2 linked regions of the Homo sapiens genome follow. Each later gene encodes a partner of the first gene's protein in a complex. Each region holds a gene or a part of one and is shown on either strand. Other genes may lie near its edges. The genes, in order: PHF12 and HDAC2. A codon is read from its position in the direction of its gene.

Region 1 (16,226 bases):
TCACTCTGTTGCCTGGGCTGGAGTGCAGAGGCACAAAAAGGATCACTGCCTGGACCTCCCAGCCTCAGGTGATCTTCCCACCTCAGCCTCCCAAGTAGCTGGGACTATAGGCATGTTAGCCCAGCTAATTTTTTATATTTGTTTTTGGTAGAGATAGGGTTTCACCATGTTGCCCAGGCTGGTCTCGAAGTCCTGGGCTCAAGTGTTCCTCCTGCCTTGTCCTCCCAAAGTGTTGGGATTATAGGCGTGAGCCACCGTGACTGGCTGATTGTCTCTATTCTTAGTTTCTCTTGTCTAGCTATCCACTGATTTAAAGCAGTCAACTCTGGAAAGGGCTTCCCTCACCCCTTTCTAACTTCTGTGGGTAAGGGTGTCAGTCTTTAGGGCTGAACAGATTCAGTGTCTCTCCCAGCTTCCTGGCTGGCTCACCTGTCCCGATGTAGAGGGTTCGATAGCACATGTTCACAGCTCCTCCCAACCCTAAGAGGGGGTAGAACACAGCTCGGGCCTGTACCTCCTTTCTTTGCACTACAAGACAAACATAGGAATAGGATCATTCAGAAACTCAGATCCTGTGATCCAAACATAAACCAACAAAATCTGGACCTTTGGCTCATGGCCTGGAGAAAATCCCGCTGGATGACTCATCTTTCCAAACTCACATCCAACACTGAGCTGCGGCAGGGTAAGGCTTTCTCTCCCCACCCACAGCATTTCCAACACAGGGTACAGAGGACCATCTTTGAAGATGGTCAGAGAAGTCAGAGATGACAGTACTGTGTAAGTTCCTGGGCTCCTGGCTGGCTAATCCGGGATATTCCAGCTGGTACTATAGGGAGAATATGGAAAAACAGACGGCATGGACCAGTGTTTCTCAAACTTTAATGTGCATAAGAATCGCCTACAGATCTTGTTGAAATGCAGATTCTGATTCAATAGGTCTGAGGAGGGGCCTTAGCTCTGCATTTCTTTTGCTGTTTTCTTTAAAAATAGGCAAAAAACCAATGCATTGAGCTCTGCATTTCTAACAAGCTCTCAGGGGCTGCTGATGCTGCTGGTCTGCGAACCACACTTTGAAGCAGCAAGGCTCTTAATGGCCAATGCTCAGACATATCTGAAACAGAGTTAACCACTTGGGGAAAATTTCCAGAAGGTTGGCCTAGTGTTATTCTATTTCTCAACTTGAACTTGAAAAGTTCCCTCTTGGGAAGCCATTCTTTTTAAAATTTTATTTATTTATTTACTTATTTATTTGGAGACAGGGTCTCACTCTGTCACCCAGGCTGGAGTGCAGTGGCACAATCATAGCTCACTGCAGCCTTGACCTCCCAGACTCAAGCGATCCTCCCATCTTAGCCTTCCAAGCAGCTGGGATTACAGGTGTATGCCACCATGCCTGGGTAAGTTTAAAATTATTTGTAGAGATAGGGTCTCACTGTGTTGCCCAGGCTGGTCTCCAACTCCTGGGCTCAAGTGATCCTCCCGCCTCAGCCTCCCAAAGTGCTGGGATTACAGGTGTGAGCCACTGCACTCAGTCGGGAAGCCCTTCTAATTCAAATATTTGAAAGCAAGTAAGCAGAAAGTACACTACATATACCCAAAGGTACTGGTAGCTGCTTTGCTGTGTCTCGAAGTGGACTTATATATGAAAGAAAGTTACAGCAGACTTCCCCAAGTCTGATCAGAAAGCTGTGGTTGCCATCTTGTTCCTGCTCTCTTCAGAAAAAAACCATGGTGCTTTATTAAGCCCATGAAAAGCACACAAGGAGGTTTGAGATACTGGAAGCTCAGATTCTCCATGGAGGCAAGGTGACCATTCGCACACGTAGAGGGGAGATCTGATGATGTGGTGACAGGTGTGTACATGCGCACCTTCTATGTGGTGCCCTCCAGAAGCCAGCTGATGTGTCCCGACACTGCCCGGTGAAGGTTGGACCCGGGAGGGGAAAAGCTGATGTATTCTCTGCAAGGCCAGAAACTTGATCAGCTTCTCGTCCAGCATATTTATCTCGATTTCTATTAGCCAAAGAGAAAGATTAAAAAGCAGCTGAGATGGGAAGTGGAATGTGGAAGCAAATCAGGGTCACAGAGCAAATAGTTTGGCATTTCTAAAATCCAGCCAAGTGATTTTTACTCAAACAGCATTGAGTGCAGAGCGTACAAGGATCTGCAGCTGGGCATCTCACTTGCCATTTGCAGTGAGATGGGCCCCAATGCAGCCTGTGCAGCTGCCTCCTGTAGTTGGGTGGACTGATTTTAATTAAAGTGCCCCTAGAAAGGCAGAGTGGAATAAACCACTTGCCTGTCTGTGGGGGAGGGCCTGGATGTCTGATATTGAGACTTGAACTTTCTACCCACCTTGTGTTCACAGAGATCAAGATCTGTCCCTGTTCTCCTGGACTTTGGGGGTTTCCCACAGATGAGGTCCCTCCTTTGGGAGTGAGGATCTTAGTTTTATTCTGCAAATCCAGGTGATCTGCCTAAAGTGATTTTGTTCTCGTCTCACTGGTTCAGCTTGGCTCTGTCCTCCCTTCATCTTTGATTATGTGTATATGCACATGTAGAAGGCAGAGCTACAGAAGGAGCTTTCTTTTTCACCCCGCCCCCCCATCCAAAAGGATACTCCTCATTCCCATCTCCCCCTAGGCCTCTGGGATCAGGTGTCCCTTCCCTCCCTTTCTGAAATGAGCTGAATGCTGTATAGGAATAGCACCTTCAACATAGCAAACGGTGGAACAGCAGCAGCTCATTCACTCACCTCCATTGACATCCATAAATGCTCGAAGTGAGTTGGTGAGGTCCACCATGGCAGTAGAGTTGGCTGGGAAAGAGGGTACGGTTAAAGCGCTTCCTATGGATAACGTGCCGGGGCTGACCTTGCCATCTGGGGACGGAGCAGGAAGACTGTTACTTACGTCGCCTGAGGGAAACCCACCGTCCAATCCCCCACTGCTGAGACAGGTCTGGATTTCGGACCCAAGGTGATGTTCCCTTCTTGATTCTCAACCCATAGGCTCTGGAACTCCTAGAGCTAAAAACGTGTGGTGAGGAAGGGCAGATGGAACGACAAAGCACCCAGGCACGCAGGAGTCTCCAGAGCACTGAGAACCACTGAAATCCACTGCTCTGGGGAAAGTGGTGGGGCAGCTTCATTCTTTGGGCCATGACCACCTCCCTGCTGCCTCTACTTTAAAATAAGTAGTGCCTGCCCTTATAATTCTTGCCTACTGAAATATGACTCACGGCGTGGAGAATCTACCCACGCTGGTTTTAAGCGATAAACAGAGATAGGAAAACAGCCTGGGAGCGGGGCCATCCTGGGACCAGGGGCTCCCATGCAGAGAAATCACAATCATCTGGTTACCGAGACTCCCAGCTGACTAGGAGGCCGGCTTCAGTTCAGACGGGAGAGACCACAGAGGGTTCCGGCAGCATCTGAAACCTGGTTCAGATGCTGGGGTCAGCAACTTCAAGGTCCTGAGTGCTCTCTGGGGACAGCTGAGAGAGCAGGTCCACAGTAGGCCAAGTACAGACCTGAAGGACCGCCCTTTGGCATGTGGCCTGAGGGCACGCTTCTGGGCTAGAACAATCCCTGTGGGCATCCCACTCTACAGCTCCTCTGAAAGACAGTGCTGCTGTCTAGCCCTGCTTCCTGACATGGAAGTTCATCAGATTAACTCTTTCTGAGAATATGCATCAGGCATGAATCCATTCTTTTGTGTGGATCTGACAATACTGAGGCCATCACGCAGAACCTCAGGCTGATCATAGTAATTCCAGAGAGCACCCTGCCTTCTTTTAAGGTGACAGAACAAAACAGGCAGAGGCCTAGGCCTGGAAGGTATGGGATGGAGTCAGGAGACCTGGGCTGTGGTTCCAATCCTGCCACTGACTCAGTAGGTCATTTTAAGGAAATCACTGAAGCTTTCAGAGCCTAAGCAGTCCCATTTATAAACGGGACAAGTTAACATGTGCTTCCTCTTCTATTACGGAAATGAGAGTAAGACAAACAATACAAAGGCCAAAGTCCTCTGAAGTATTCACAGGGATATAAGTGCTTTTAGAATCTTATTTGCCAGAAAGAGCATAAAATTATTCCAAATCAACCCAAGGCTGAGCAGCACTCACCTGACGATGGCGCTGGTGAGCTGAATCGTTGGTTGGCTGTTGTGGCCAAGATACCATCTCCTGCTGCTTGCGGGGGAGTGAGCACCCGGGTGGCGTTTGGGGGTGAGCCCAGTGGCCTTGAATCTGTCAACGGAGGTCCTATCTGTGATTGGACAGTCTTTCTTTGCAAAGTGCTGGTGTTCTCGATGCTGGCACAAGAGCTGGGAATGGAAGGGGGCAGGCTTGGGACAGGAACCAAACTCCTCTGGGGGCAAGAGCTGGGGCCAGTGGCATTCTCTGTCTTCACAATGATGCCGACGGTGTGGTTCTGAAGGCCCCCAGCCGCTGGTGGCGTGAGGGGCCGGGGCCAGCCTTGCCGGTGTGAGAGGCCTGGTAGTGGGGTGTTAGCGCCTGGAAGTCGCCGGGGGTCCGTGGAATCAGTAGGGCTGCTGTAGAGGTGTGGGCCATTAGCTTTCACCTCTGTGTTCACTGGCCCATTGGCAGTCCCACAAGGGGTTTTCTTGGATTTTTCCGCACAAGAACTGCAGCCGATGTCCTCTAGGGCTGGGGACTGGTGGGGTGGAGAGCAGCTCAGGGAATTCTGGGTGCTAATCCCTGAGGGGCAGGACAAGGGGTAGTGGGAAGGTGTAGGTGTCTTGTCAGCTGTTTGCAGGGAGGTGGTGACTGAGCTGTCAGTCACAATAACAGGCTTAATATCAGCCTTCTCTGTCTGTTCAGAGTCCCAATGCGAAGGCATCTGCTTAGCAGATAAATGTTTCAATATGCTGCACTGGAGCGCAACAACACTACAGAGCCACTGCAATGGAAGGAGAGGAGAGGGGGGTGAGAAGCCTGAGAGGCGCCGGTCCTTCCTGCCACAGTGGCCAGGGCTGCAGCAGAGCTGACAAGCAGTTTCCGAGGTCCCATCATGAATGCTCACAAAGGGTGTGCTTGACTCCTGATAGAATTCCATTTCCATTCCCAAGCAAGACTTATAGGTACCCTCAGCAGGCCAACACTCCCTCTGGCCAACAGAGCTTGGGATCTGCATTTTGACTCTGCCTTTAAGGCTTACTTGTGACCAATATTCAGCAATTACCCCGAGCACCTGTGGTATGTCCAGCACTATCACCTAACCTCTCTATGGGTCTACTCATCTCTTTCTACAGTATAGATTTGCCCATCTCACAGTGCACTGGGGTAACGATGGAGAGAAGCAGACCAGTTGCCTTTGTAGATCTCTTACTTGCCTTTGGGATTTGAGCCAGAAGTTCCCCCTGGAATACTCAACTCTTGAGGGGTTAGGATGAGGGTGGGTGGGGACTGGAATGAGAATGACACTGAGGCTACTTCTGATAACAGCTGTGGTGACACAGAAGGAAGGTTGGATTTGGAATCCCCGCCCCACCTTCACTCACCTCTTGCTGCTCTGCTTGGGTGGCTAAGTGCTCAGAGTTCAAAAGGTGCATCTGTGATTCCTCAGGGATCCCATTGCAGATCAGCTCCCCGTCCCGAATGGCCGCGGGTGCAATGAGAGGGGGTGGAAACTGGTACTGAGATTTTATAGCATCAGGAACCTGTTCAGGATAGATAGAAGGAGGAAGGAGAGGGAGATAGTTCCAACATGTCTAGTTGATTCTGCCCTGGTATGCTGTTCTGTCTGTGGTGCTGGTGCTCAAGGGACCATCCACTCTGGGGTCTGCTGAGGAAAAGGAGGCTCAGAAATGGAAATAGCAGGTGGGGCCTCCACTTTCCTTCATCAAGGTCTAAGGCCTGCAGAACACAGAAACCACTGCGTTCTGTCTTCTGCTTTAGCCTGAAAGGTGTAAGACTGGCACTGGACAGGGCTTCAGAGTGGTACTCTGGGTTCTTATTGCTCAGTGTCAAGTTTGGGAGTGGGTGAGCAGTCACTGAGAGATAAAAATGCTTAGGCCAGGCGCGGTGGCTCACGCCTGTAATCCCAGCACTTTGGGAGGCCGAGGCGGGAGGATCATGAGGTCAGGAGATCGAGACCATCCTGGCTAACATGGTGAAACCCCATCTCTACTACAAATATGAAAAATTAGCCGGGCGTGGTGGTGGGCGCCTATAGTCCCAGCTACTTGGGAGGCTGAGGCAGGAGAATGGCATGAACCCGGGAGGCGGAGCTTGCAGTGAACCGAGATAGGGCCACTGCAGTCCGGCCTGGGTGAAAGAGCGAGACTCCGTCTCAAAAAAAAAAAAAAAAAAAAAAAAAAAAAAATGCTTGACATGAGGCCTGGCTCATGATAAGCACTCCATCAATGTCAGTTTCCTTCATCCATTCATTCATGACTCATGAAACAACTAAAGACGTCTTTGTGCAACAAAAACAGAAGCCACACTCTGAATCACACCATGTAAGAATGAAAGAGCCACACAAGCAAAGAGTCATTCATACATTCAACCAACATTTATTGAGCACCTCCTGTGTCTGGGCACTGTTCCAAGTTCTAGAGATCCAGAGATGAATAAAAGTTAAGACTTGCCCTCAAGGAGCTCACAGTCTAGTGGGGAGATAAACACAGAAATATTACAACACAAGGTAATGGGTTCTAGAAGAGAAGCATGTCTAAGGTGCTATTAAAAACATAGTGCTTATTTTAGTTTGGGGGACAGGAATTTGGGATTGGGGATGATTTTATAGGAAGTCAGTATTTGGGTTGACACTTGGAAGTTGAGAAGGATCTTCCAGGCAGATAAAGGAAAAATAAGGGAGGGGGAGAAGCATGTAAGGCATAGAGATGTGATAGCACTTTGTGGATTTGGAAAACATCCAGAGAACCAACAGATTTGGTGACAAAATCCTTATGGTAGACAAGGGAGAACTGAAAATGGTTCCCAGAATTTTAGTTTGAGGGACTGAGTAGTGATCATTGTTATTTACTGCAATAGGAGATACAGGAGGAAGAGCAGATGTGGAGAGGCAGAAGACTTCTGGTCTTATGGAGGAGGTTCATCCTGAGATATCTGTGGGATGGGCAGGCAGATATGAGTCTGGATATAAGGAGAAAGGCATGGAATATGGAGTTGAGAGTCATCACCATGGGCTGGTGATGGCCTTAGCTGGTGCCATGGGCTTTCTGAGATCACCCAGGAATGAGAGGAGGAGGAATAAACAGTGGACTAGTTTATTCCACTACCCCTGGGGTAAGAACAGGATACCCCTGGGGAAGAGTGAAGGGCTAAGTGGAAGAGAAATTCGCAACGAAGATACAAAGTTCTCAGCAGATTTTTCCTGAATTGCTAGAATCAAGTGTAAAGGCTAATGTTCCAGGAGAGAGCTGGGGTTCTTCACCAATGTTCTATGGTGCTACGGTCCTCATTTCACTCTCAAACTGTCCAAGTACAAAATGCTTTGCAGGTAACTCATGCCCTTTGAGTTTCCTCACTAGAGAAACACTTAAAAGGTGGGAGGGGCACCATACAACAAGGGGATTTTTATCAAGGTCTCCTGGCCCGTTCACTTCAGCAGCTATGCTCTCTGACAAATCTACACAGTGAATTACACAGTCTGGATTACTTTTAGATCTGTTTCACTGAGATGAGGCATACTACCTTTAATATCATCCATTTCCGAAATATTTGAATCTAGTTTTGGAAAACCTGTGTCTCCACTGATGTATAAATATTTGCCCAGTTAAGTTTGTTATACAATTTTCAACAGTTAGCATCTTGCTAGTGCTGATACCCACTGAAGGTGATGGCAGTGGTGTGACTGACCTTTTTTTTTGAGACAGAGTTTCACTCTTGTTGTCCAGGCCGGAGTGCAATGGCGCGATCTCGGCTCACTGCAACCTCCACCTCCCAGGTTCTAATGATTCTCCTGCCTCAGCCTCCCGAGTAGCTGGTATTACAGGTGCCTGCCACAATGCCAGGCTAATGTTTTATATTTTTAGCAGAGACGGGGTTTCACCACGTTGGTCAGGCTGGTCTCAAACTCCTGACCTCAGGTAATCCACCTGCCTTGGTCTCCCAAAGTGCTAGGATTACAGGCGTGAGCCACCGCGCCTGGCCAGTGTGATTGATTTTAAAATGTGGCTGCCACCAAGTGGCCATACTTGAGAAGTGCTGGTTTCTGTTAGCACATAAGACTGTGGGATCATTTCAAAAGAGAAAAACAAGTTTATATATGGGTATATAGTGTTGGACCCTCTAGGTTAACTGAATGAGGGGATTGAATGGTTTAAAAACATCCTCACTACCACCAAATGCTTTTCAAGGAGGGAAATTTTTCTGTCAATCTCTGTAAACACACTTTGGCCAATGTCAAGAGCATATAAATATTAGGCATTATTACAGCTATGCCACAATTTGGAGCATTGGTGATATATTAACAGCAGCCTGGAAAAATAGATTCAAGTTTCCTTTAGATATTTTCCACTTAAGTTCCTGAGCTGGGATTAGCTCTTCACCTTCCACATGGCTCTTTCTGCTTAATCATCCCCACCTTTACTTTGCCTCTTGGACAGAGGCCATCTAACAGGAACAGATAGAATGAGCGTTAGGTGAGGGTGGCAGTAACAACAGAGCACATTTGGGTTTGGTGGGATGGGCTGAAGAGTGCTTATCCTTTGGAAAACTAGAGACTGGTAGACTTCGAAGGCTAACTTGAGGTTCGGCCCTCATAATCCTGACCATCATCCCCAAGTATTAAAATGAAGGTCACACTCATTACTCACGAGACACCACAAACCTATTTCTGGGGCTTCAGTTTCCCTGCCTGTAAAATTGGGACAGTGATCCTCTGTCTAACCCATGATGGCAGGCAGACTACCATCTTGCCTGCACCTGATTGTGACTCACCTTCAAGCTTCTTCTTTTGACCGACTGGAGCACACGCCGGTTAGGGGGGTGCTTCTTGTGGATTCGGTTCAGGAAGTCCACTTTGACGACATGCTGCGAAACGGTGTCCTGGAAACGATCAAACACCTGGCACCGATTGCTCAGTGTCATATTCTTCTGGTTCAGCTAGGGACAAAGCAGACACAACCTTGTGGTGAGCCTCAAAAGGCACCTCCTATCCCAGTTAACCCCATTCCCTGTGTTTAAAAACTAGAAGCCCTCAGCCACATAGGTTCCCTCAATTAGGGACCAGGATGTCGGCACTCTTTGTCAGAGAGCAAGGGAACATGGATGAGACTTCCTACTCAGCCCTGCCCAGTCCAGTGGAAGAGAGCCAATATGTTCCTGTTCCCTAGAGAGCCTTAAGGAAGGCAGGAGAAATTAGCCAAGACGTGCCCTTCCAAATTCGGCCTCTGACAGTCTTCTGTTCCAGCTCAGAGAAGCCTCTGTCAGGGCCCTCTAATAGCAGCACAGGTTTCAGAGAAGACGTATGCTTCGACCCTTAAGAGACCCACACTCCCTTCCCAGGAAGGGCCTCTCTCTAATAGGAAAAGCAGGACTGTGTCCTACATAGGAGCTTGGCTGACAACTGGGTCAGAACCAGAAATCCGTGTGCTCTGCTCTACTCCTACTCCGTGGTACCAAGGAGCATAAGTTAACCCATCTTGATATCAGTCTTCCTCTACTGGAAGGGAAAACCTTGGATTGCTCTTAGAAGCCAAAAGGAGAAAAGAAAGAAGAGTTTCTGCAATAATATACGAAGGCATACAGAAATTATGCCACTTTTCCTATTCTACATCTGGGCTCCTACATTTTAATTCAAAAGAAAGGACCTGCTGTGGCAGCTGCCTAATTCATAAATCAGGAAAAACCTTTAAGTGGCTAACAAAAATTTAACCCACTAAGAATTTCTCAACTGCTAGAAAGCTGCTCTTTAAGTTTCACATTTGGGTAAACTGCTTATGGTCATTTTTTTTCTGGTTCATCAGGAAGCAAAACAAGACTAGGAGAGAAACAAGGAAGCAAAACAAGACTAGATTTTCCTCCTAGAAAAATCTTTGACTGGCATGAGTCAAAAGAACACAAAGTAACTCTTCTCTTCCATGTGTGCAAGTCTTTAACCGAGGTTCCTCTCAGTGCAAGGTCAGCAGCACACTGCCATGAAGGCCAACGGTCATTCCATGGTTATCATCATTTGACAGACAATGTCTTAAGCAGTAGCCTTTTTAATTTGGAAGGCTGCTCTTATGAGGGAGCTCCTCCTCCTCAAATCCTCTCCCATTCAATCTTGTGAGTGACTGTTCTAACTGCCTATAAAGAGATGTCCTAAACTTCTTTTGGAGATAGCAAGTGACAGCTCTTTTCTAGCCTCAGTCTGGAAAATAAACCCAAGACTCTTGGAAGAGAAAGCAATAGGACCTTCACACTATTATTCATTCAACAGCTTATTTACTAAACTTCATTTGGTGCCTGGGACACATGTACCCCAGACAGCCAACGATTTATTTCCTTAAGGTTGGATCTAATATACTCCCCTTTTAGGGCTATAACATCAACTGCTTAATTCCCTATAAGTCACTTACAAACAACCAAGCACTAGTGAGTTAAGTCTGTATGGGCAGCTGAAACAAAACATTGTGAGAAAAAGCATAGCTGAAATATGTCAAAATGATCAGAATTGAGTAGGGTGGCCTGCAGAAACCAGTACCTATGACAATGTGGTGAACTTGGCACCAAGCTGACCTTAATATGCTTTCTGCTAATCAGTCCACGCTCCAGCTATGCCCATTGAGGACTGAATGGACACTGCTGTGCTTACCACCACATGTTCGATGTGATTCGGACACATCCATCTGCCCAGGGGCATGGCAGTGAGCGGCGGCTCGAGGCAATCCATGTGAAACAGGAGAGGGCAATAGTCACACTGGATGAGAGGAGCCACACGGCAACTCCTGCAAAAAAGAGATGTTGGCCATTTCTGTGGCAAGAAAAGGAAAATTCAAACTAACTTTGACCTGTGGAACAGCCTCCCCTCCTTGATCCTAACATTCTCCCCTCCTTGATCCTAACATTCTCCCCTATCTTCCTCCAGTGATTCAGTTACATTTATGATTAGAAAGATGGATGGGGCTGGTGCGATGGCTCACGCCTATAATCCCTGCACTTTGGGAGGCCGAGGTGGGCGGATTGCCTGAGGTCAGGAGACTGAGACTGAGACTAGCCTGACCAACATGGTGAAACCCTGTCTCTACTAAAAATACAAAAAATTAGCTGGGCGTGGTGGTGGGCACCTGTAATCCCAGCTACTCGGGAGGCTGAGGCAGGAGAATTGCTTGAACCTAGGAGGCCGGAGGTTGCAGTGAGCCAAGATGGCGCCACTGCACTCCAGCCTGGGTGACAGAGAGAGACTCTATCTCAAACAAAACAAAACAGAACACAACAAAACAAAAAAACAACATGGATGGATTTGGGGGCTCCCATTAGGTTCTTCATTATTCTCTCTTCTAAGAAGAACATGTCTTGCGGGAAAGTGAATGTTTATTTGGAGTACAGCTAAAGTGGCAGAGTAGGGATGATCAATGCTCAGTACTCACTAGGGGAAAACAGTGAACTCTGCTCTGATCTTCCTACTTCTTAAAAGAGAGAGCCTACTTCATTAAAAAAATCACTAGCAACCTTTCTGGAGTCTTAACTATAGCAAGAAAATATTTCTCTTCTGCATGAAGCACTCAGCAGAACTGACAATTAGAGGTGTGCTGGAAAGATGATTTTGTAATGTATTCATGTAAGCAGGGTTCAAAAGAGGACTAAGCAAATGACAACTACGATTTGTAACTACAATACTCCTGGGGTCCCCAAGATGCACTGGAGCCACAGTTTGTCCTGGCTCAGAGTTCTGCCACTCTACTATCTAGTTCCCTTTCCCTATACCTTTTGCTGTGAAACATTTCTTTTTGATAGTTACTTTCTCTTGCTACCCTGCTCTGACCATAATACAGTCCTTCTAACACACCCAAGCCAACAAGTCCAGCTTCAGTAACTGAAGCAGCTGGTTTCTGTCAAAGAGATCCTATTTGAAGGAAACCAGTGTCCCAGAGACTATAACTGGGGCAGCCCTAGGGGCTTTTGGAAGTCATCCAGTCCAATACACACTATCATAGATCCTTATACTACTTTTAAACTTATCTTTAGTGATTCAAGTTAATGTTTAGTTTAAGTCCAACTCCTCTTGTTCTAGTGTGTAAACACAGTTTTTTTGAGATGGAGTCTTGGTCTGTCACCAGGCTAGAGTGCAGTGGCGTGACCTCAGCTCACTGCAACCTCCGCCTCCTGGGTTCAAGTGATTCTCCTGCCTCAGCCTCCTGAGTAGCTGGGACTACAGGTGCGTGCCACCACACCCAGCTAATTTTTGTATTTTTAGTAGAGATGGAGTTTCACCATGTTGACCAGGATGGTCTTGATCTCCTGACCTCATGATCTGCCCGCCTCGGCCTCCCAAAGTGTTGGGATTACAGGCGTGAGCCACCACACCGGGCCATTGTTTTTATTTATTTTTATTTATTTTTTTGAGACGGAGTCTTGCTCTGTCGCCCAGGCTGGAGTGCAGTGGCGCGATCTTGGCTCACTGCAAGCTCCGCCTCCCAGGTTCATGCCATTCTCCTGCCTCAGCCTTCAGAGTAGCTGGGATTACAGATGCCTGCCACCATGCCCGGCTAATTTTTTTTTGTTTGTTTGAATTTTTAGTTGAGACAGGGTTTCACCATGTTAGCCAGGATGGTCTCAATATCCTGACCTTGTGATCAGCCTGCCTCGGCCTCCCAAAGTGTTGGGATTACAGGCATGTGCCACAGCGCCCGGCCCCTTGTTTTTGTTTTAAAATACAGGGTCTCGCTCTGTTGACCAGGCTGGAGTGCAGTGGCGTGATCACAGTTTAGCCTCCAGGGCTAATCTGCTTAAGCCTCTGGAGTAGCTGGGACTACAGGTGCGTATCACCATACCTGGTTCATTAAAAAAATTTTTTTTTGTAGAGACAAGGTTTCACTGTGTTGCCCAGGTTGGTCTCAAGCTCCCAGGTTCAAACAATCTGACCGCCTCGGCCTCCCAGATTGCTGCGATTACAGGCATAAGCCACCGTGCTCGGCCTCAACACAGTTCACAGTACTCCTGTACTGTGATTCTTCAGAAAATTTGTTAACACATACACATTCAAGGCTCTCGTCAGTCCATTAGTTAGTCTCCATGTACTCATACTATCAGAATATGGGCTGTTCACATTTAACATACATGGTCTGGAAGAGGTGATGAGAGAAAAAGTATCATCTGCTAAATAATGAGAAAGAGCCCCTTAGTATGAAAGAAAATACCTGTTACACGTGAAGCAGACTTTGACGGGTAAGGGAACGAGACCATTGTGATCTAATTCATGCTGTGTCTTCTTAACATTTTTCCCTGTGGTTTCCTCCTTTCTTCTCCTCTTGCTAGAACCTAGAAAAGAAAATGATGGTGCTGAGCTATCCCTGGCTTCAGAGTTCCTAGCCTGCAATATGGAAACAACATTAAGTGACAAAAACAGATCTTAAGCATGTGTCATGGCCTAAGCATGAATTGCTCTCTGAGGCCCCTGGGGTTGATTTTAAGTTAGAAAAAAGAAAGATTAGGGAGGAAAAAAAAAGAGACTAATACGTAAGTCAGAACCAGAAGTCACCTGTTCTATGGCAGAAACACATCTAACTGTTTTGCAAACATAAAATGGTCAGAAATGCTAGGTTAGATACAGGCAACCTAAGAAATGTAAATGTCCAAGCCACATAGTCAACAAGGACTATTCTGTGGAGTTGGCCTGCAGTCTTGAACTACTGGGCTCAAGCAACTTTCCTGCCTCAGCCTCCATATGAGCCAGGACTACAGGTGTGGGCCATCAAACTCAGCTAACTTTTTTATTTTTATTTTTTGAGAGATGGGGTCTCATTATGTTGCCAAGACTGGTCTCCAATTCCTGGCCTTAAGCAATCCTCCTGCCTTGATCTCTCAAAGTACTAGGATTACAGGTGTGAGCCACCACACCTGGCCCACATTTTCATAAAAATCAGAGAAGCTTTGATTCTATATGCATCCTTCTTAAGCCTACCAATTTCACTTTCTTTGGGAATAAAAACTAAGACCTAGAAGCTTTACAGTATCAAGAAGCCAGGACTTAAAAAAAAAGAATGGAGGACAATTTGGCAATATCTATCAAAACTATATAGTTTTGACCCAGCAATTTTATTGTCCTATAGACATAGTCACACATCTATACATGTATATAATGATGTATTTACAAAGTTATTCTCTGAAGCACTACCAGTAGTAATGAAAGATTTGGAACCTAAATGTCCATTAATAGAAAATGTCCATTAATAGAAAATGGCACTGGTTAAATAAATTATGACGTATCTGTACAAAGAACTACTATGCAACCATTAAAAAAAGCAAGAAGGCCAGGCGCAGTGGCTCATGCCTATAATCCCAGCACTTTGGGATCCTCTGAGGCGGGAGGATCGTGTGAGCACAATTTGAGACCAGCCCTGGCAACATAGTGAGACCCTGTCTTTATAAAAAATATAAAAATTAGCTGAGTGTGGTGGTGTACAACTGTGGTCCCAGCTACTTGGGAGGCTGAGGTGGGAGGATTGCTTGAGCTGTGGTCACACCACTGCACCACAGTGCAGTGCAGCCTCTGTCTCAAAAAAAAAAAAATTCTATATTAATATGAAAAGACTTCTAGAACATATTTTAAAGTGAGAAAAAAAAAGCAACGTGTAGAATGGTTTAACTAGCATGTTACTTAAGGGAAAATTAATCAGCATATATCTGTATTTGCTTTTACATGCACAAAGAAATTTGAGAAGAATAAACAAGAATCAACCAGTGGTTACCTGTGAAGAGCAGGAAGGTGGAAAGTAGGCAAATGGCAGACGGGTGGGAGGGAAATTTTCATTGTAGCCCTTAATATTTTTTGATTTTTGAACCATGTGAATGTATAATACTTTTTTTTTTTAAAAGATAATTCTGGGGCCGGGCGTGGTGACTCGCACCTGTAATCCCAGCACTTCGGGAGGCCGAGGTGGGCAGATCACCTGAGGTCAGGAGTTCAAGACCAGCCTGAACAACATGGTAAAATCCTGTCTCTACTGAAAATACAAAAATTAGCCAGGCATGGTAGCATGCGCCTGTAGTCCCAGCTACTTGGAAGGCTGAAGCACGAGAATCGCCTGAACCTGGGAGGCGGAGGTTGCAATGAGCCGAGATCGTGCCACTGCACTCTAGCCTGAGTGACAAAGTGAGACTCACAAAAAAAAAAAAAAAAAAAAAAGGAAAAAGATAATTCTGGGGGAGGGGAAGGAAAGAAGTTCAGAAACTGAGAAAATGGAAAACTGAGTAAGCTCTGTAATGGCTAAGACCTTCAAAGATCTCTCCAAGCAGAACTAGGAACAGGAACCCAAGACAGTAGCTACATGAACAGTGACTCCACAGGCAGCACTGCTCTTGTGCTGGTCCTTTGGGGAAACTGGGGTTGGGAAGGGATATGATGATGGTTTGGCTGACCTGGTAGTGCAGTGGTACAAGTCAGTTCATTGGGCAACTGAAATTGGGTGGGGTTCCGCTCCATGGCGGCAGCAATCAGCAGCTCAAAGGGCCGCCTCAGCTGGGGCTGCACATAGTCTGGCTCCGCTGCTACTGGTTCCTCATCCACGTCAATGATGTCTTCGTCGACATCATTCTGCTCAGAGGTGGGAGTCTCTGTGCTGGCGCTGGATGTGGGTGTGCCAGGCCTGCTGGCTCTCCTTTCCAGGATCCGGGCATGGGCAATGGCCTTTAGTTCAGTTTTGCTGGCCGATCTGTCCAACAAGTCAGTGTCACTGCTGGGGGATGTAGTCCGTTTGCCAGATTTGTCCACCAGTCCATTGACATGACCCAGCTCCTTTTTCTGCTCTCGTTTCTGTGCAAATGAACAGGTGGGCCCATCATGAAAAGTACCATGAAACAAAGAGATGGGTGCTACAAAGTCCTGGTAGACCACTAATCAAAACTGTAAAAGGCCTTCACATATCACAGACTCATCTACCTGGTCACTTGGAACACTGGTCTGTTAAAGTTGACACAACTCTAACTGAACTAAAGCTGACAAAACTGTTGCATCAGAGAATCACCAAAAAGCATGGTAAGTTAGGAATAACTATACAAAATATATATCATTAACATTAACTCATTGTATG
Region 2 (16,226 bases), on another chromosome or scaffold:
GATGAGAAGGCTGTTTTTCAAGAAGGTGAAAGTGACAGAATATTCAATGAATCTGAACACATGAAGATACTGAGACACCAGTAGTTCAGCAATAAGTGGAGAGAAAACTAAGCAAATGAGAAACTTAGGAACAATTATGCAGCAAAGAACAACTGGATAAGCTGAAAAGTGTTTAAAGATGCTGCCGTAAACACTAAGTATCACAATCAAATTCTGATTTGTAAAAATAGAGGTATGGGAAGGGTACAAGTATGTTGTGGGCAAAATGGTGAGGAGAGCTAAACCCTCTTCTTCCTTAATGAGAAATAAATAATCCAATTAAGTAAAAAAGTATGCATGTTTTATTTACACTGAGTCAACAACCATTCAAAAATAGCTGCCTTGGGTTCAAACTACAATAAACCTTAAAAAACTAGTCTTGTATAAATGTATATATAAATCTGCCATAATGAAACAAGAATAACTCTAGTCATACATACAACAGACAAAACCCCATGAAAAATGCAGAGTACAGTGTTAAAACAGCAGGCAAGAAACTACAATGAGAACTTTTACGGGGAGTTCTTGGGTGGAAGAAAAACCATTTTTTTCTGGAAATACCACCCTTTGAATTGCTTACCTTTGACTGTTAGATTGAAACAACCCAGTCTATCACCAGATAATGAGTCTGCACCACACTGTAATACCACAGCACTAGGTTGATACATCTCCATCACCTTTGAGATAATCTACACACAAGATAACAAATGTTAGCATCTCCAATAACATTCTGAAATTCCATTCCAATTGTGAAAACAATAATACTTACAGGCTTAAATATCTGCCCATATGACTCATCATCTATACCATCTCTCATTGGAAAATTGACAGCATAGTATTTGCCTTTTCCAGCACCAATATCCTAAAATACATAATTAAACTGATCTTAGAGAATATTCTATAATAAAAAGTTTGGCATTTGTTTACTACATTTTGAAAAGACTGAAAGACTAAGTATTAAGGATCCAATTTTGAATTCATCTTAGAAGTTGAGACCGGAACAATCAAACTGAGAAAGGAAATAATAAACAACAAATAAGTATATGCTCCAATATTTATAGACTGCTTGTAAAGCATACAAGAACCATTTTCAATTAATCTGTAGTGATTATTTTTGACAGAAAAGAAATTTAACACAAGTTAAAGGCAATGAAATTACATTACATTAAACCAGAAAATCCATCATAAATAGAATATTTAAGATGACAAGGCAACTTTATGAGTAAACCTGTGGAAAATAAATTAAGCCAAAAAGCCCTGCCGGACAATCATCTGCAGAATCCTTCTTGTGGTTCACAATCTGTTGGTATGAGTTTACTTATGATGAAAGAACGACCCACACTTTCTCGAAGATTTAACAGCTACCGACTAAAGCACCAGATTTGTTCTTTTTTTTTTTTTGAGACAGAGTTTTGCTCGTTGCCCAGGCTGGAGGCGCAATGGCGTGATCTCAGCTCACTGCAACCTCCGCCTCCCAGGTTCAAGCAATTCTCCTGCCTCAGCCTACCGAGTGGCTGGGATTACAGGCATGTGCCACCATGCCAGGCTAATTTTGTATCTTTAGTAGAGACAGGGTTTCCTCCATGTTCAACAGGCTGGTCTCAAACTCCCAACCTAGGTGATCCACCCACCTCGGCCCCCCAAGGTGCTGGGATTACAGGCGTGAGCTATGGTGCCCAGCCTCAGATTTGTTCTTAATTGGACTTGGACTTCAAACAAATTTTGTTCCTACTTGTTGAATGAGTACCACTCCAGGCATTAATCTCTCTCAAAAGACGCAAAGGTTCCAGCTACATATACTCTTAAATGATATATACATATATTATATATACTTACTTATTTGTATATGTTATGCATTTGTAGGTGTGCATATGCATTTCTGTGTGTGTATACGTATTCCTAGAAGATACTGTATAGTACAGACATTACTACAAAATAGTATTTTAACTGCAATACCAAAGGATTGGGGTGTGCCTCTTTGTTGTTTTTTTTTGTTTTTTGAGATCAAGTCCTGCTCTGTCGCCCAGGATGGAGTGCAGTGGCATGATCTCGGCTCACTGCACTCCAGTGAGCCAAGACAGCCTCCTAGGTTCAAACAATTCTCCTGTCTCGGCCTCCTGAGTTGCTGGGACTACAGGTGCACGCCACCACACCCAGCTAATTTTTTTTGCATTTTAAGTAGAGACGGGGTTTCACCATATTGGTCAGGCTGGTCTCGAACTCTCGACCTCAGGTAATCCACTCGCCTCAGCCTCCCAAAGTGCTGGGATTACAGGCATGAGCCACTGCGCCTGAGTGGGGTGGGGGGGGGGTGCCTAATTCTTATGTGCGTTGAATGATAATGTCTGAAGATCCATGAATTTTCAGGATTACTAGCACTTGTGCAAGTTCTTCTGAACCTCTCATGGAATGATCTTAGCTTCAGTCCAATTTTACAAAAGCAAAATTTACCCTCAATATTAGAGTTATGAGACCCAACATCCAACGAGGAGAAAGCAAGCAAAATTACACACCTCCTCTCCCAATTTTTCTTGAAGTCTAAGTTTTTATTAAGATTAACTAAATACAAACCATACAAATATGGAAAAGCCAAAGTATTGTGAAAACTTTACAGTCCTACTGCACAGTTAAAACACAGATGAAATATATTTTGACCCTAAGATTTCAGAATACAGAAAAGTTGGTCAGCACTTCTCATCCTAACTGCTACTAACTAGCTGGCAACTCAGAGCTGCTGCCCTTGTTAGACATAGCTTTCTCTCTTCCAGGTTTCATTCTGCAACTGCTACTATGCCACCTTTCTTTCTTCCACTAGACTACTTGAATTAAAGCAAACAGTTTCAACAATGAGCTAAACTCAGAGTAGCCTTCTTTTCAGCATGAGAATGAATTAGCAGGCAGAAAAAGGAGTGTTTATTAAATTAACATCCAAAGATACACGTGAATTACACAGAAAGTCCAAAAACAGCTGTACATATAATGTAATGACTGATTTTAATTCTCTTACGAAGTTATGGGGACATGCTTAAAATATTCAAATGTTATCCTGAAAACATCAGCAACTGTAAAATCTTTTTTTTTTTTTTTTTGGCTGAGTCTTGCTGTGTCGCCCAGGCTGGAGTGCAGTGGAGCGATCTCGGCTCACAGCAAGCTCCGCCTCCCGGGTTCACGCCATTCTCCTGCCTCAGCCTCCCCAGTAGCTGGGACTACAAGCGCCCACCACCACGCCCGGCTAATTTTTTGTATTTTTAGTGGAGACGGGGTGTCACTGTGTTAGCCAGGATGGTCTCGATCTCCTGACCTCGTGATCCTCCCACCTCGGCCTCCCAAAGTGCTGGGATTACAGGCGTGAGACACCGCGCCCGGCCCAGCGATTGTAAAATCTTAAGTGAGAAAAAGAGATGTTGAAAGCCATTCTCAAATCCTTCTAAAACAGCATTCTCTAATATTTTCAAAAACTTCAAACTGTAAGAATTTTGAATAATAACTGAGATGAGACCATAGTGACATCCACCTGTCAGAAATTAAATGAAGCTTCCATTTTCCACTTCTGAGATAAACTAGCATCACACTGCAAAGATACTGTCTTATTCTTTAAGCTTAAAACAGAGAAGACTTTTGCTTGACTTCCACTAGGATGTAATGGTTGTTGACAAATGTATTCTATCAGTTTACAGCAGTGGTTCTCAAACTTTAAGGTGAAGAATCACCCAGAGTTTCTGGGCCCTAAGAATGTGTATTTCTAACAAGTTCCCAGGTGATGCTGATCTGCTTTCCTCAGTTTAGGCGCCACTGTTTGAGAAGCACTGGTCTGTAAGATAAGACCAGGTGGGGAAAGGGAGAAATTGAAGGAGTTTACTGGCAAGGAATTGAAATTACAAATCTGCAATTTTAAAAGCTAAATAATTTAAACTCAAACCAAACATTTGACCTCCCACCCATTTGTAAGTATGGAAAAGTTTCAGTAAGGTAACTCTTTTACTCAAAGAGTTTACTGAGAAAGTATCACACTGTGATCTAATAAAGAAAAGCCATACAGCTTAAGAATACTTTATGGCAACTCTTTAAACTTTGGTTGCTAAACTGTAATGATATACCACAGATGTGAAAAATAATCTTAATAAAATAGTTTAAAACTTTGTTCAATGCCATATAAATCTCCCATATAATCCAGGCTGAACTAAAAACAGCTGTTTAAATTATTGAATAAATTTCGACATTTGTATAGTTAGGTTCAAAAAAAGTGTAGTGAGGCAAAAAACCTTCAATGAACTTATAGAAATAGGATTTGACCAGTGGTTTTCAGAGTCATAAAAGACAAGAGCATCAAATGGAAAAAGATAACAAATAAAATAGAAATACACTTAATGTTAACAGGCAGGCAAGGTTACACTATGGTATCCTTTCTCTACCTAAATACATTACCAATTTTAGAAGCTTAAAGAAAAAAAAAGATTAAAATTAGATCTACTAAAAATCAAGACCAATCACAAAAGAGAGGAGCAGAAGAACCTAAAAAGACCTAGTCTATTTTATTCCACCATTCTTTACAATCAATAGCAACGTAGGCTACCATCAGGTAGTTTTGAAGATTCAAACTGAACATCAAGAGAAGGGCTTCATGCTTTGTGGATATTCAAAAACATTTATTCAACCAAAGAAAACAGCTGAGAAAAAAACTGTCCTTAAGTTTTCACTAAATTTTTGCTTATAGTCAGCAACAGTGAATTCTAGCAAATGTTACTGCATACGTAGTAATTCAATTCTGCATACAAGTTTCAAATTATTAACTCAGGAGAAAAATACTACTTCAAGTATAGGATTACTGATCTCCTAGGTTCATCTCACAATATTTTTTCAGACAGAATTTAGTCTTACCCTCAAGTCTCCTGTGCCAGGAAAGTATTCCCCATATTTATGGAATGATACCGTCATTACACGATCTGTTGTATAAAAAGCTTCTTCAACACCATCACCATGATGAATATCTATATCAATATATAAGACTCTCTGATGATACCTGAAAACAAATCCATAAGTTTTGGTTTTTCCTTTAAAGGTTCTAAGATGGGAAGAAGCACCACAAATTCAGGAAACCCATTTTTGAGCTCTTGCATTCCAGAATGTTTAATCACCTTTTACATTCAGCCTAAGAGGTTATTCAAATATCTGAGGTTTGAGCCTCAGGCCTTTAAATACCCACTTGTGGCCCAATGTAGGTTAAAAAATATATATTTACTCTTTGTGAAATCTGTTCTATTCTACATGCTTCAAAAACATAGCACATATTTCTAATATATTAAAAACTGAAGATTATACCATACTCAAGATTGTTAATTAAAACACCTCTGTAGTAAATCTTCAATAGTATAAAATAGGGATTGGCTAACTATGGCCCATGGCCCAAATTTGGCCAATTGCCTCTTTTTTCAGCTTTGAACTAAGAAGTTTTTATTATTTTTTAAATGGTTTAAAAACAAAACCAAAACAAGAGTATTTTCTGACGTGTGATAATTATACAAAATTCAAATTTCAGTGTCCATAAAAAAAGTTTTACTGAAAGACAGCCATGCTCAATTGTTTATTACCTATGGCTTCATTTGAACTGCAGAATCGATTAGCTGTGACAGAGGCTACATGTGGTACTCTCATGACTTCAAACTGGTGCTTGGAGCACCACAGATTAGTGACACAGTTGTAACTCAAACGCAGTTTAGGAGTCACATGAATCACCATGTCATGACATTTTGTTACCAGTGTATACTCATGTCAAAATAAGGGGAAAATGGACTTCTCATGTCATCCTTTTGAAGTATAGTGAAGTGAGATATTATTAGATGGCAAAGCATTGTATTTATTATATAATGGTGCCATAACTGTGCTAAATAAAACAATACAATGTAAATTGATATTTCCAGACTAAGCACTCATAAGAATATTCTCATAACACTATAAACAGCATACCATAGTACAGCAAAATTTCTTCACAAAATTAAAAAAACAGAAATGAGGCTGTGATCAAAATAAAGTTTCTGAGCGGCTCACGTGTTAGATAAGCAAGGAAAGCTGTGCACCAAGTCAATTAATTAAATCATGTTTGATTACACCACCCAAAAAAATGTGTCCAGACAAATTAAAGTTGTTTAAAACTATTAGCTGAGTGGGCAAGAACTTGCTCAAAGAGTTGAAGACACTGGAACCAACATCAACAGTCAATTAAAAAACAAGGCAAATGATTGCAAATGATTTTCCTTTGCTCCTGATGAGCAGGCAAGATGTTACACTGATACTGCTCAATCACTGTTTATTTGAGGAGTCAGTATCAATTTTAAGTTGACTGAAAAGTCAGCCTCTATGGATAGCATGCATGGAATAACTACAAGCAAAAAACACTAGCTCAGTATAATACAAAGTAGAATCTGCTAAGATGTGTCATAACTGATGGCAAAAAATAACTAACATTGCGAACATCCAAATTCCTAAGTACCTCTATAGATCTCTCTCTCAAACTGCAGCCACAGATAAGGAAAAATAACTCCTTCAACAACTCAGAGATAATTTTATATCCATCAGTAGAGAACAAAGCCTCATTCAGATATGGAAGTTAGGCAGTTAGACTAACTCAATAGGTAAAAAAATTTCCTTTAACACTGGCTTCAAATTTTTGTCTTCAGTTTAAAACATCCAAAATACTAGAATATAAACTTCCAAGGTCATTGTCATTTTTTACTAGTTGAAACTAACTAAAATGAAAATTGCCAAACTACTTTTAAAAAAGGGTATTTAATGGGAGTTTTGACATTTATATACACTTCTAATTCTTTTTTTTTTTTGAGATGGAGTCTCACTCTGTAGCCCAGGCTGGACTGCAGTGGTGCCATCTCGGCTCACTGCAACCTCCACCTCCCAGGTTCAAGCAATTCTCCCACCTCAGCCTCCTGAGTAGCTGGGATTACAGGCGCACGCCACCACGCCCGGCTAATTTTTCTATTTTTAGTAGGATGGGGTTTCACCATGTTGGTCAGGCTGGTCTCAAACCCCTGACCTCATAATCCACCCACCTCGTCCTCCCAAAGTGCTGGGATTACAGGCATGAGCCACGGCACTGGCCTTTTATACACTTCTAATTCTTTTTTTAAGGCAGGGTCTCACACTGTTGCCCAGGCTAGAGTGTAGTGGCAGGAACATGGCTTCCTGCAGACTCAACTTCCTGGGCTCAGGTACTCCCACCTCAGCCTCCTGGGTAGTTGGGACTACAGATGCATGCCACCACATCTGGCTAATTTTTTTTCTGTAGAGATGGGGTTTTGCCATGTTGCCTAGCCTGGTCTCAAACTCCTGGGCTCAAGAGATCCGCCCACCTCAGCCTCCCAAAGTGGAGGGATTACAGGCCTGGGCCATAGTGCCTGGCCACACTTCTAAGTCTTAATAATTGAAGAATTGGGCAAATTTCCTGCATTTCTTCATTGTTTTGTAATGAATTCATAGAAAATTCACCATTAACTATTTCAACCTATGGTTTACCTAATATTTTTTAAAGCCATAGACTTTATTTATTGTGTTTTAATGAAAACACTTTATCACTGAAAAGAGTATCAATATAAATTAACATACTTTAGTAATTCAAGGATGGCAAGCACAATATCATTAACGTAACAGAATCCTGATGCTTCTGATTTCTTAGCATGATGTAATCCTCCAGCCCAATTAACAGCCATATCAGTCTGTTGTCGGTTTAACTTCACAGCTCCAGCTAAGAAGTAGAAACAAGATAGACCTTTTAAACATTTATCATAAAAAAGTAGTAGAATGAGACAAAAACACTACAAGTGTATGCCATGCATAAGCAAGAGCTTAAAATCATGAAAGTTAACAGAAATCATCTATAACACAAATAGGAGTTACTCCTTAGAAAAATATTCTCCTAGAGCTGCAACCTGAGATTAAATAATGGTTTATGTGGAAAGTGGTAGTAACAATGATACCTAGAAGACAAAGGGAATGAATGAAGTCTCCAAGTGAAAATAAGTTTAAAAAGCGTTTAAGTCATAATCATAAAACATAGAGGTTTGAAAGTAAATTGTACTTTACTATAAACATACTGATTTCCTTTTGTTATCAAAATTCACAATCATTAAAACTTCTGTTTTACACAAATAACCCGAAAGATAACACACCAAGTTCAGATCAACTTTTAAATCTGATTGCATTAGCACTTACCAACTGAACCGCCAGTTGAGAGCTGACAAAACTCAAAGAGTCCATCAAACACTGGACAATCTTCTCCAACATTAACTGTGGAAGATGGATTTCATTAATTTCAACACATTCTGCAAATTAATGAAAGCCTTTTCTTACAAAAACTATTTCCCACAAATACTTTTTTGCTTGATGCAATCATCAAACATACACTTCACAGTATAATATAAAGTTTCCAACTTTAAAATATATTTATTGTTTTATCCAAGGTAATTAAAGTGTTATCTGTGAAAGATCATCAAATCTTATCAGGATTATCTGTGGAATATTTCTGTCTATTAACAAGAACTCAATAGTTGTCTAAGTACAACAATTCTTATTTAATTAAAACACAGGCTTAAATTTTCTAGGCCTTTCCCCTTAATATTACAATAAGTTAACATTCTAAAAGCAACTTCAATTGCTTTATAATTTACTTTCTTTGAAACTCCTTAAATACCTATAATATCTGTAACTTTGAAATGCATGTCAGTAAGTTACTAAACCAAAAAGATGTAACAGCTGGTTGCCTATTCCCATGGCTAATCTTGATCTTGAAAGTTGCTAAGAATTAACTAGGTTCATGGGAGCCAAAACATAGGATACTAAAGACAACAAGGAAAACATTTACAGATAAACGATCACACATTTAGTTCCTTAGCACTGAGAGAATGAAAGGATATGGCAGATGTATGTAACCCTTTCTTAGTCTTTCCCTATGCCCTTGAATTGTAACCTCTTCAAGAATAAGGGTCCTTGTTTTGTATATTAATATCTTTGTATACCCTTAAGTCACAAGCACTATAAGAAATGAATTTTAGTTTCTTACTGCACAGAGAGATCATAATCTTTTTTTTTTTTTGGAGACAGAGTCTCACTCTGTCGCCCAGGCTGGAGTGCAATGGCGTGAGCTTGGCTCACTGCAACCTCCACCTCTGGGGCTCAAGCAAGCAATTCTCCTGTCTCAGCCTACAGAGTAGTGGGATTACAGGCGCGCACCACCACACCCAGCTAATTTTCTGTACTTTTTTAATAGAGACAGGGTTTTGCCATGTTGGCCAGGCTGGTTTCGAACTCCTGACCTCAGGTAATCCACTCACCTCCGCCTCCCAAAGTGCTGGGATTACAGGCGTGAGCCACCACACCTGGCCAGGATCATAAGCTTAATAGAACTCATTATTATGTGGGTTTTAAATCAATCCTGTTATGTTGTTTGCCCAAGGGCTACTCATGCCTCTTTTGCATCTAAGTTGGAATCTTCATTGAAAAAAAAAAAATTAAATACTACATGTTCTAGTTACATTGTAGCATTATAACAAATCAAACAAGATATGGCAGAAATGTGTATGAGGTTGTAAATATGAGATGTCTAGCACCTACACTAATTTAGTATAATCATCACTGAAGTCAGTCAATACAAACACTAATGAGAATGAACTTTGGTATCAAGCTTTAAAAGATACTGTTCCAATAATTTTAGGTTGACTTTTGCATTCTACCTTCAAGCCAATTTGTTACTAATCTCTAAAAATAAAATACTTTTAACCTGTACAAGAGAACATTACGTAGAATCAAAAGCTTCACTAATATCTTAACAAAGAAAAAGAGATGTGTATTATAGTCCAGGTTAACTGAAGTACACAAAGACAAGACAAGAGATATGTACATGCCAAGCTAAGGCTAATCAAAGTGTAATCTTGTTTTTGTTTTTTTGAAGCGAGGGAGTAAGGGAGTGAGGTCTCCCTACCAATATGTATTAACCCAAAGTTATCAGGGGAGCAAACTAGGAGTAGAAGAATACCCAAACAGCAGTTTTGCAAACCAATAAGCTTCAGATAGGTTTACTTTTTTCTTAAGTAGCTTTAGTAGTGTTAAAATGACTTTTCAAATCAGTAAATAACTGTAACATATTAGACCAACAGGAAAAATATTCAGATTTAGATCATTCTAAGCTCCTAAAAATACTAATTTACATTTATCAAAGCAAAACTACTTTTTACTTAGAAACGTACATCTCTGCATCTGCTTACTATACTCAGACATGTTATCTGGTCTTATTGACCGTAGAAATTTGATATACTCATCACTGTGATATTTTGTCATTTCTTCGGCAGTGGCTTTATGGGGCCTCTGTGAAGAGAAATAAATGTCAGAACTGTGGAATTACAACCGGTTATATCAGTATTATCAAACAAATATACAAATTCCCCTATCGGTCCCCTCAAAAGAACCAAGTCTACCAGAACAAAATATATAAATTCCAAAACTAACCCAAACTTATATGTGTTTTAGAAAACAGTAATCAATCTCAAAACTAATTCAAACTCCTTTAAAAGCATTACACAGGCATATCAACTATGATTTAATCACTCCTTATTTTAGTGGAAACAGTTCGAGTAAAAAGTCAAATCCATATGTTCATAAACTCTACTTTCTCTCCTTTTCCATGATAAAACATCCAGTGATTTCATCAATGAAATCACTCACTACAAGAGTTTTCAATTCTAAATCTTTGTTCACGACCTCTCGTCCTTTTTTCTATCCTAATCTTCCTTGTTCCGAAGAGCTCAATTTCACGTATGACACAATTCTTCCACAAGACTTCCAGACTGAGTCTTATTCTAACTTCCCCTCTTCTCTAAATGTCTACATGTAACTGAAAATAATTCACATATTCACATATATTGCCTAGCATTAATTGTTTTAAATATTTCTTTTCTCCCCAAATAGCTAATTGTCGTGTCTGTATTTGTTTATACATACCCTCATCTTTATCTACAAAAACATTAAGGCAGCTGTTGCACTTGTGTTATCTGTACTATGCTTGGCCACACTAACACAGTATTCCATATGTATTATATGCCCTGCAAATATTTGTGGGATTAATTTTATGTGTTATTATTTTGTAACAGTCCCAGGTCAACTCTTTTCAGCAGCACAGGCAGATTAACAATTATTGTAAAAAAAAAAAAAAAAAAAAAAATACTTAATATGCTACACTGAGTTGTTGCTATACTGAGTTGTTCTCCAGAACCATGAAAGCCTAGGGTAGGGGGAACTTTTTTAAATGGTTAAAGGAAAAGGAAAAAGAGGGTATAGCTCTCATTCTTATTCATCTCCTAAGAATAAACGAAAAAAGAAGTTTGTTTTCTTCCAGATCTTTTCATCTGCTAAATGCCCTCAAAAGGGGAATAATAGACAAAGTTTCACAGTAGCTAAAAAAAAATAAAAAAGATCAGTGCTGAATATGTATTAAAAGGAATACTCACATATATTTCCATTTTTCTGTATAAGCCATAATTTAACAGCAAGTTATGGGTCATGCGGATTCTATGAGGCTTCATGGGATGACCCTGTCCATAATAATAATTTCCAATATCACCTAAAATAGAAAAGACACAAACTAAACAATACAGACAAGAGACCCTCCATGAACTATTTGAATTTATGTATGTCTATCATTAGAAGGCATTTACTACTTAACAAAATTTATTTAAAACCTTAGCAACTTAGATTTATTTTGCAACTTTCAAACTGTATCAGATGACTAAGACGCTACGCACACTTTTACCAGCTGAAGACTCCATTATTACACATTATATTTATTTGTAGATTAAGGAAAGCAAGCTTTTCTGATTTTTAGCTACCCCCAATTTTTAAAATTTCTGTTCCTTGAAATGATGCCTGCTTTCTGTATTCTCTGGCAAATTCACATGCTTTTAAGTTCTCTGAGTTTTATTGGTATGATTTAAAATTTTTTCAGCAAATACTGCTTTTTGGATGATTTGCTGGCATTTCAGAAATCTCATAATTGGCGTTTTGCATGTTAAAACATACCGTGTCCATATTAAAGCCCATCAGGGAAGTTTTGGTAACTGAAATTTAGGTCCTAAATGAGGTTTTGCTCCACTAAGACACAGCATTACATTTTTCAAGGTAATAAAAATACTGTCTCATTCTTCATGACTAAAAAGTTGTAATTCCTAGCCTGTCTTTTTAAACGGCATCTTATATCACAATGTCTTTAAACTTATGCATAAGATTTAAAAAAGAGAAAATAACAAAATCACAGATTTTCATCAACTAAATTTCAATAAAATTAATACTTTTAGGTAAAGCTCCAGTGTTTCCTATAATAGTAAATAACAAGAAGCCTCTCAAATATATAAAGTCAACCCTCTGTATCTGTGGATTCAATCAACTGCAGACTGAAAATATTTTTAAAAAATAGATGGTGGTGTCTGCTGGAAACACGTAGAGACTTTTTTTCCTTGTAATCTTCCCCTAAATCATACAGTGTAACAACTATTTACACTGCATTTGCATTGTATTAGGTATTATGAGTAATCTAGAGATGACTTAAAGTGTAAGGGGAGATATACATAGGTTATATGCAAATACTATACCAGTTTATTGAAGGAACTTAAACACCCATGAATTTTGCTATCTGTGGAAGTCTTGGAACTAATTCCCCACAGGGTCAGGACAGTCAAGCTATTTTAATGGTTTGAAGTCTATCATTTCAACACGGGTTTATATATTACAATAAAAGCTAGAATAAAAAATGCAATTTATCCACTAAATCTTTCAAAGTCCTCCCTAAATACACCTTTTGTTTGTTTAATGGAAACAACCCCAAAAACTTTTTTGTCCTCTCTCCTACATATTTGATAACAGTACGGGATAAACAATCAGCTTTTACAAAATCCATGCTTCTAATAACATAAATACTTGATTTTGTTGGTATCACACCTCTAATTTTAGTTAACTTCATTTTCAGCACAGCTCTCTTCTGAAAACAATTCATATACAAAGTCTTTTAAAGGGAAAGCCACCTTTTTAATGCAGGTGCCAACAAGGCTAAGAAACAATATAGAGTTTAGCAAAGCAGGGCCATGGCCCTTTGCAACATTCCTCTGCAATTATAATTAAGAGGCTATGATTGCAGAAAATAAACTACCTATTAAGAAAGAATCTACCATAAAGCTCTACCTTACATGGTGACAATACAAGGGATATATAGTTCCTTGAAAGCAGCCTGGTCTCATCATTTCTTAGATATGGAAAACCCACTAGTGTTATTACAAAGCATCATGTAATTAAATTAATACAAGGGAAGGCATTTCTTAGTTATCACTACTAAAGAAATCATTAAAGTAAAAATAATGAAAGTCTAGTCTTCACTAGAAATGCAGATTCTATGAGGTTTCGTGGGATGACCCTGCCCATAATAATTTCCAATATCACCTAAAACAGAAAAGACACAAACTAAACAATAACTTCCATCTATCTGCCTCTGTGTAACAATTACCCAAATGAAATGTCTCTAACATCTACCACATCATAACATCAAATACTCTAGTTATTTGATGCACACTGAAAATCCAGTGAAAAGCCCCAGGCCCCAATAATTGGAGACTACAGTAGCAATTTCTGAGCAAGTGTGTTTGAAAAAAAAAAAAAGCAGTAATTAACACTTGTTGAGTGCTTACTAGAAGGCACTATTAAGTACTTCACATATCTTTTAATCTTGTCAATAACCTTATGATGTGGGTATTATTACATTATTCCTATTGTATAATAGTAAAGAAGGATGAGAAACAGACAAGTCAGGTATTATTGCCTAAGTCACATAGCCAGCAAGTGGAGGAGCTAGATTCAAACTCTGGCAGGGCAGCTCACAGCTAATGTTCTTAAGTAATAACAACAGGGAATGTCAAGGACACTTACAGATTCACTAGAAATGGCAGGGTGAAGGCTGAAAAAAAGACATAATATGAAATATAAATATTTTAAATAAAGGCTTAGGGTCTTGGTTAATTTAAAGAAAATGAACACAAGAAACTGTACCTAATATATCAGAGTAATTTACTTTTTACTAATAGGGTCCTCAAATCGTATACGAATACGCATAGCTTTCAACAAGTTTCTCTGTTGAAATTTAGGGACCCCAGTCCCACAAAGAATACACAAAGAACCTAAATGATACATGTATACAGGGCAGCCAAGCTACAGATAATTTTTTGGTTTACCAAGAATTCTTCTAGCTGGGCGTGGAGGCTCACACCCGTAATCCCAGTACTTCGGGAGGCCGAGGCGGGCAGATCACGAAGTCAAGAGATCGAGACCTTCCTGACAAACATTGTGAAACCCCGTCTCTACTAAAAATACAAAAAAAAAAGCCAGGTGTGGTGGCATGCGCCTGTAGTCCCAGCTGCTCAGGAGGCTGAGGCAGGAGAATCACTTGAACCCAGGAGGCGGAGGTTGCAGTGAGCCGAGATCGTGCCACTGCACTCCAGCCTGGGTGACAGAGCGAGACTCTGTATCAAAAAAAAAAAAAAAAAAGAATTCTTCTAAAATATAAAGGCGTTATAAAATAACCATCTCCAACTTTTTCCCACTAATTCTGTATCTCACAATTCTCTAGATGGCTACTTTGTAGGCATCCACTTTGTTTTCTTTTTGAGATGGAGTTTCGCTCTTGTCACCCAGGCTGGAGTGCGGTGATGTGATCTTGGCTCACTGCAACCTCCACCTCTGGGGTTCAAGCAATTCTCCTGCCTCAGCCTCCCAAGTAGCTGGGATTACAAGCGCCCACCACCATACCCGGCTAATTTTTGTATTTTTAGTAGTGACGGGGTATCTCCATATTTGCCAGGCTTGTCTCAAACTCCTGACCTCAGATGATCTGCCCGCCTCAGCCTCCCAAAGTGCTGGGATTACAGATGTGAGCCACTGTGCCCAGCCCACTTTTTCATAAAGTATAAAAAGGCTAAGAAGTTTTAAGACCCTACAATTTTTATTCATCATTTAAATGGTCAGTAATGTATTAATAATTTGGGCATTTTAAATGTTACTGATTTGCATCAAAATACAGATTATCCCTAATCCAAAAATTTGATATCCAAAATGTTCCAAAATCTGAACTGTTTTGAGCACCAACTTAATAGTCAAGGAAATGCTAACTGGAGCATGTCAAATTTTTGATTTTCGAATTAGGGATGCTAACTGGTAAATAATTACAAATATTGCAAAACCTCCCCAAATCTGAAATACTTCTGGTCCCAAGAATTCAGATAAAGGATATTCAACCTGTACATAAAAATACTTTACCAATGAAATAAACATTCAGAAAAATCAGCTCAAGGTGGTTCCTTGAACACAACAAACTTTAATTGTCAATGCAAAGAAATTACTGTAAAGAATTATTTATCTGCAAAATTTTACAAATTGCTCACTCTTCAAGAAACTAACAGAATGGAAGTGTCTACTAAGGTCCACAATCTCTTATCCATATTCCTTCAAATTAGATATGTTTCAAATTTTACACTTTTTCAGATTTTGTAGAGATAATATGGTACACCTGCCATATATTATGTAATAGCCTAGAGTTTGGGTGGCATGATATAATCAAACATTAATATTTCTACAGCAAAAAAGTGTGAATATTCACGGTATTCACAGAGGAATAAAGATCATAAATAGCCTCACATTGATTCAGGTTAAGATTTTGATTCCAAATGAGTTACCAAAATTTTTTTCAATTTTCAGGTCATTTTGGATTTCAGAACTGTGAAATGTACCTTTAGCCACAAAGATAAGTTGACTGCAAAAAGAGACTCAGGAAAAAAAAAACAAGAGAAAAGAAAAAAGTTTATTATTTTCATCTTCCAGACTACTTAGCCCACTATCCATTTTTTATACATATTAACACATCTTTAATACATATTTCAAGGAGGTTATTCCTCCTTGAGACATTCGGAGCCTTGGCTTCCATAATACCATTTTCTTGGGATTTTACTTGTACCCCAAGGCCACTCCTCCACCAACCTTTAAACATCAAGGGTTTTCAGTTCAGCCATTCATTTAATAAATCAAGAGCCTACCATGTGCCAAGCAGGTACTGTTCTAAGGGTTTGGGTTCATCAGTGAACAATAGTTCTGCCCTA

What was found.
Region 2: the proteins of PHF12 (region 1) and HDAC2 are in contact, whole or in part, in a cryo-EM structure (PDB 8BPB), measured with the Homo sapiens proteins. Residues at the interface, in NP_001028733.1 of Homo sapiens: Met21, Gln25, Met298 (codon at 10,867), Asp299 (codon at 10,864), Cys300 (codon at 10,861), Leu301 (codon at 10,858), Glu302 (codon at 10,855), Pro303 (codon at 10,852), Pro304 (codon at 10,849), Leu305 (codon at 10,846), Thr306 (codon at 10,843), Ala307 (codon at 10,840); in NP_001518.3 of Homo sapiens: Gln27 (codon at 11,633), Tyr202, Gly203, Leu212, Arg213, Pro228, Met229, Arg230, Thr356, Glu358, Tyr359, Lys362, Ile363, Arg366.

The regions. Positions count from the first base shown.
Region 1 is NC_000017.11:28,908,354-28,924,579, forward strand, and holds part of PHF12 (PHD finger protein 12), read right to left. Parts: intron 15,950-16,226; coding exon 15,556-15,949; intron 13,456-15,555; coding exon 13,335-13,455; intron 10,923-13,334; coding exon 10,790-10,922; intron 9,097-10,789; coding exon 8,932-9,096; intron 5,685-8,931; coding exon 5,526-5,684; intron 4,925-5,525; coding exon 4,129-4,924; coding exon of another isoform or gene 4,103-4,128; exon of another isoform or gene 3,791-4,102; intron 2,885-3,790; coding exon 2,759-2,884; intron 2,017-2,758; coding exon 1,873-2,016; coding exon of another isoform or gene 1,682-1,872; exon of another isoform or gene 529-1,681; coding exon 430-528; exon of another isoform or gene 1-429.
Region 2 is NC_000006.12:113,948,360-113,964,585, forward strand, and holds part of HDAC2 (histone deacetylase 2), read right to left. Parts: intron 14,036-16,226; exon of another isoform or gene 14,008-14,035; intron 11,660-14,007; coding exon 11,547-11,659; intron 10,408-11,546; coding exon 10,290-10,407; intron 8,335-10,289; coding exon 8,260-8,334; intron 7,793-8,259; coding exon 7,654-7,792; intron 5,060-7,653; coding exon 4,918-5,059; intron 902-4,917; coding exon 809-901; intron 729-808; coding exon 620-728; intron 1-619. UniProt on the Homo sapiens protein: Histone deacetylase that catalyzes the deacetylation of lysine residues on the N-terminal part of the core histones (H2A, H2B, H3 and H4).